Regions from separate parts of the Homo sapiens genome. Here region 2 is linked to region 1. The links come from fine-mapping of genetic effects on gene expression. A gene starts in region 1. The other region holds a variant in brackets. All regions are shown on one strand. Distances are from middle to middle. Region 1 holds the start of PPIL2 (peptidylprolyl isomerase like 2). Region 2 overlaps PPIL2 (peptidylprolyl isomerase like 2).

What was found. PIP is the estimated chance that this variant, and not a neighbour inherited with it, causes the effect. A credible set is the group of variants that fine-mapping cannot tell apart.
Region 2: its variant is the best candidate, but not a certain one, in a credible set for the expression of PPIL2 in nasal epithelium (TOPMed, PIP 0.90).

What each region holds. Positions count from the first base shown.
Region 1 is chr22:21,664,284-21,667,184 of GRCh38, reverse strand. It overlaps PPIL2 (peptidylprolyl isomerase like 2), which reads right to left and starts at 1,173. Exons shown (of 20, transcript NM_014337.4): 1 at 1,054-1,173. The coding sequence starts at 1,085. RefSeq lists enhancers at 737-786, 857-1,096, 331-1,241.
Region 2 is chr22:21,690,352-21,693,252 of GRCh38, reverse strand. All of the region lies in intron 15 of PPIL2 (peptidylprolyl isomerase like 2), which reads right to left. Among named protein-coding and RNA genes, the nearest start is that of PPIL2, 26 kb to the right of the region's middle. RefSeq lists an enhancer at 2,835-2,901. The variant GAAAAC/C (reference allele first, on the strand shown) is at 1,184.

The sequences.
Region 1 (2,901 bases):
AACTGCGTCTCAAAAAAAAAAAAAAAAAAAAATGAGGACTGAGGATTGAATACTATATTTAGCAACAAGAAGTCGCTGGGAACCTGAAAAGAGAGGCCGCTGAAGTCGAGAGAAAACAAAGAGCAGGTGAAATCCCAGATACCAAAGGAGGGCTTCAGAAAGAGGGAGTGGTCAACGGTGTGACATACTGTTGAGAAGCCCAACAGTTCTGGGGTCGAAATTCTGACTTGAGTGGTTTCAAGAGACTCAGAAAACAGCATGAAGCCACTAGTCTCTCACTTGTTCTTAAGAGAAACAACACGGCGGCAGCGGGAGGGGAACGTGGGACGTGGGGCACGGGGCACGGGTGGATTTTTAAATTTTATTTATTATTTTTGAGACAGCGTCTCGCTCTGTCGCCCAGGCTGGAGTGCAGTGACACGATCTCGGCTCACCGCAACCTCCGCCTCCCGGGTTCAAGCGATTCCCCTGCCTCAGCCTCCCAAATAGCTAGGATTACAGGCGCCCGTCACCACGCCCCGCTAATTTTTGTATTTTTAGTAGAGACGGGGTTTCACCGTATTAGCCAGGCTGGTCTTGAACTCCTGACCTCAGGTGATCCGCCCGCCTCGGCCTCCCAAAGTGCTGTGATTACAGGTGAGCCACTGCGCCCGACCTGGTTTGCTTTAAATTAGAAGGCTCTGCAGCACGTTTGCAGGCTGATAGGCATGAACCAGAACACAGCGAGACGTGAAGTACGGAAGAGGTAGAGACTACTCATTCAAGGGCGAAACTCGCGAACAGACGGGGGACGGTCCGGGCAGAACCAGAGTAAGGAAAACCGGGCTGCGCTCGAGCCCGCAGCTGACGTCATCGGAGCCGCGGCCCCGGGAGAGCGCGGCGGCCCGAGGGTCATTACCCTGACTGGAGACAGGGCGGCAGCTTCCGGGAGGAAGTGACCTTTGGGCTGTGCTCTGGGGAGTAGCTGAGAGGGAAGGCGAGCGGCGCGCAGTGCGGGACAGGCGGTTCACTGAGGCAGAGTGGAGCGCCGCTCCCGACTGCGGCTCAACTTACATTTTGTCCTTTTGGTGCTGTCGCTTCCCCATGGCGGAGCGGCGGCGGCGACTAGCGAGCACGAAAAAACAACGGCTGACAACTCAGACCATGGAGCCGCAGCCGAGTTCCGTGACCACTTCCGGGTTCCGCGGCGCGCCCCGGAAACGGGCGCCTGGCGTGCTGGGAATTGTGGTTCGCTAGCGCCAGGTGCTCATGCTCGGAAGGATCGCCTGCCCAGTATGGGGTCCTAGCTAGGTGTGCCATCTCCCGCAGGCGTCTTTTCGGGGCCGAGCTCCCTCAGCCTCGAAGCCCCATCTTCTTGAGGGGTCTGTCTGGACCGCCTTGTCTACCCCCCTAGCCACGGCTCAGGGCCATTCCCATACTGGGTTCTCAGGTCTTATTTATTTATTTTCGAGACAGGGTCTCGCTCTGTCGCCCAGGTTGGAGTGCAGTGGCACAATCACAGCTCACTACTGCCTCGACCTCCCAGGCTCAAGCGATTCTCCCACCTCAGCCTCCCGAGTAGCTACGGGCACGCACCACCACACCCGGCTAATTTGTTAATTTTTTGTAGAGACAGGCTCTTACAATGTTGCCCAGGCTGGTCTGGAGCTCTTGAGCTCAAGCAGTCCTCCCGCCTTGGCCTCCCAAAGTGCTGGGATTACAGGCCTGAGGCTTCGCGCCCGGCCAGCGCTCAGGTCTTTTTCAACGTCCTCCTAGAGCTTCAAGTCTCATGAGCCTCCACCCCATCCCTTCCCGCCTCCGTGGCAGATGCCTTCAAAGCCATGTACCACTCTCGTTCTACTCGCTCACTTCTCATTCTCTCTGCATATTCGGTCCCCACCGCCTCCAGGCCCCTCGGAGGCCCAGCAGCAGGTGGCCATCAAGCCTAGAGGTCCAAAGCCCTACCTGATCCCTTCCGTCTCTTCTGCCAGACCCTTCCCTTGGGTCAGATCAGTACCTTGGGCCCCTAGCTACACTCAGGCCCAGGGTAATCTTGCCTAGGCTCCTAATTTTAAATGCCATTTGTATCCCATGACTCCCAGTACTAAGTCACCAGCACTCCAGGTTCCTGATCTCCACTTGGGTAACCACTGATCTGAAATGTAACATGTCTGGATGGGCGTGGTGGCTCACGCCTGTAATCCCAGCACTTTGTGTGTGTGTGTGTGTGTGTGTGTGTGTGTGTGTTTAGTAGAGACGGGGTTTCACCATGTTAGCCAGGATGGTCTCGATCTCCTGACCTCCTGATTCGCCTGCCTTGGCCTTCCAAAGTTCCGGGATTACAGGCGTGAGCCACCACGCCCGGCCAATCCCAGCACTTTGAGAGGCTGAGGCAGGCGGATCACTTGAGGTCAGGAGTTCAAGACTAACCTGGCCAACATGGCAAAACCCCATCTCTACTAAAAATACAAAAAATTAGCCTGGTGTGGTGGCACACACCTGTAATTCCAGCTACTTGGGAGGCCGAGACAGTAGCTTGAACTGGGGAGGCAGAGGTTGCCGTGAGCCAAGATTAGGCCACTGCATCCCAGCCTGGGTGACAGAGTGACTCTGCCTAAAAAAATTAAATTAACATGTCTGGTCAAAGTAGAATTTTCTTTTTTTTTTTCTTTTTTTTTTTGACATGGAGTTTTGCTCTTGTTGCCCAGGCTGGAGTGCAATGGTGTGATCTTGGCTCACTGCAACCTCCGCCTCCCAGGTTCAAGCGATTCTCCTGCCTCAGTCTCCCAGGTAGCTGGGATTATTACAGGCATGCGCCACCACGCCTGGCTAATTTTGTATTTTTAGTAGAGAAGGGGTTTCTCCATGTTGGTCAGGCTGGTCTCGAACTCCCGACCTCAGGTGATCCTCCCGCCTCAGCCC
Region 2 (2,901 bases), 26 kb before region 1:
AACATGGTAAAACCCTGTCCCTATTAAAAATACAAAAATTAGCTGGGCGTGGTGGCGTGTGCCTGTAGTCCCAACTACTTAGGAGGCCAAGGCAGGAGAATCGCTTTAACCTGGGAGGCAGAGGTTGCAGTAAGCTGAGATCACACCACTGCACTCCAGCCTGGGCGACAGAGTCTGTCTCAAGAAAAAAGAAAAAGAAAAAAGGAAATGGGGTGGAATTAAAACAGCCAACAGCACTGCCATGAGACGAGGAGAGAGTTTCTGCCAGCCTGGTCTGGGAGGAAGGCAGAGACTACCTCATAACTTTGGACTTTTTTTTTTTTTTTTGAGATGGAATCTTGCTCTGTCCCCCAGGCTGGAGTGCAGTGGCGCGATGTCGGTTCACTGCAAGCTCCGCCTCCCAGGTTCATGTCATAGTCCTGCCTCAGCCTCCTGAGTAGCTGGGACTACAGGCGCCCGCCATCACGCCCAGCTAATTTTTTTGCATTTTTAGTAGAGACGGGGTTTCACTGTGTTAGCCAGGATGGTCTCAATCTCTTGACCTTGTGATCCACCTGCCTTGGCCTCCCAAAGTGCTGGGATTACAGGCGTGAGCCACTGCACCTGGCCAACTTTGGACTTTAAATAGATGTCCTTCTTAACCTTAGACCAGAAGTAAAACATCTAATTTCCAAACCAGCAGAAAGAGAAGAGAAGCAAATGAAAATAAATATAAAAAATGGTAACTAGAAAGCAACAAGATCATAGAACGCAACAGACCACCTGAAGAATTAAGTCCACATTTAAGATTGTCAGGATTGGCCAGGCACAGTGGCTCACGCCTGTAATCCCAGCACTTTGGGAGGCCAAGGTGGGCGGATCACAAGGTCAGGAGATCGAGACCATCCTCGCTAACACGGTGAAACCCCATCTCTACTAAAAATACAAAAAATTAGCCAGGCGTGTGGCGGGCGCCTGTAGTCCCAGCTACTAGGGAGGCTGAGGCAGGAGAATGGCATGAACCTGGGAGGCGGAGCTTGCAGTGAGCCGAGATCGCGCCGCTGCACTCCAGCCTGGGGGACGGAGCGAGACTCCGTCTCAAAGAAAAAAAAAAAAAAGACTGTCAGGATGAAGGAGAACACGACAGACCCCAGCTGTGAGCCTTCAAAAAGCCCTCAGAGGGCAGAGCCAGAGAGGCTGAAAA[GAAAAC/C]GATGGAAGACATGGGGTGGGTCCCGGCGCTGGCGGCACGGAGCACTCCCCAGGGTGGTGCAGGCAGGCACAGCCCACAACCCGGCTGGTGAGACACAGGACTTAACCTCCACTGCATCAAACATGCACCCCCCAGCCACGCAGGGACACGCTCCTGAGCCCACCAAGTCTGACCACACCCGAGGCCACCAGACAAGTGTCCGCAGATGTGACATCTGCAACGGTGCAGACCTGAGCTCTGACCTGCAAGCAGTTCCCTCTCTTGCTGATTTCTAACACAGTGAAGGAAACTAGAAGCAGAATTAAACTCAGATAAGAGGAAAGTAAAAGAACCATCCTGAGGCAAGCTCCTCCTAGAAAATCTTTTTTTTTTTTTGGAGACGGAGTCTCGCTCTGTCACCCAGGCTGGAGGGCTGGAGTGCAGTGGCGCGATCTCGGCTCAATGCAAGCTCTGCCTCCTGGGTTCACGCCATTCTCCTGCCTCAGCCTCCTGAGTAGCTGGGACTACAGGCGCCTGCCACCATGCCCGGCTAGTTTTCTGTATTTTTAGTAGAGATGGGGTTTCACCGTGTTAGCGAGGATGGTCTCGATCTCCTGACCTCGTGATCCGCCTGCCTCGGCCTCCCAAAGTGCTGGGATTATAGGCATGAGCCACCGCGCCTGGCCTCCTCCTGGAAAATCTTTAATTACAAGAATCACAAAAGGGAAAACAAAGCTGTAACAAATTAAAGTCTAATGATCTTTGAATACGGTAAAATAGGCAAACCTTTGGCAACAGTTGTCCAAGAAAGCACAAAATACTACTAGAAATAAGAAAAGAAGGCCGAGTGTGGTGGCTCATGCCTGTAATCTCGGCACTTTGGGAGGCTGAGGTGGGTGGATCACCTGAGGTCAGGAGTTGGAGACCAGCCTGGCCAACATGGTGAAACCCTGTCTCTACTAAAGTACAAAAAATTATCCTGGTGTGGTGGTGGGCGTCTGTAATCCCAGGAGAACCGCTTGAACCCAGGAGGCAGAGGTTGCAGTGAGCCGAGATCCCGCCATTGCACTCCGGCCTGGGTGACAAGAGTGAAACTCCATCTCAAAAAAAAAAAAAAAAAAAAAAAAGAGAAGGTGGCAACTGATCTGTCAGCAGTTTCACAGGCTGGTTAAGCCAAAGAGAAATAAAAAATAATAAAATGATTCCCTGCCCTGGCCCCTGCCAAACAACAAAAACAAACCACGCACCCAACCTACTTGAAAATAACCAACAGTCCTAGGCAATCCTTGGCTGAGAAGAAATTGAAAGGGAAGCTACCAACAACCAGCAAGCAGTGAAGAGGGAACATGCACCCTCAAAATGACAGACGTGGCTATCAGAAACACACATGGATTAAAGTGAGGAAGGAGGAAAAGCACCATGAAGAAGCAAAGACAGAAACTGAAAACAATTACAAACCCTTCAAAGTGAAGTGAAAACAGACAAACCCTTCAAAGACCACTAAGGGACTGAGGAATGGAAAGTGTGATTAGGCATGAGAAAAAAAGGTCAGCACAGCGAGGCCAAGAGAATACCAGCCTTCATGGAAACAAGTGCCCGTTAACCCTGAAATGAAAGCCCCAAGGAAGTGGCACGAATAGCTGCCAGCTGCCTTTGCCCAGCTGTTAAGCACAGCTGACTCGTTTGATTTTTTTTTTTTTTTCCAGACAGGGTCTCACTGCTGCCCAGGATAG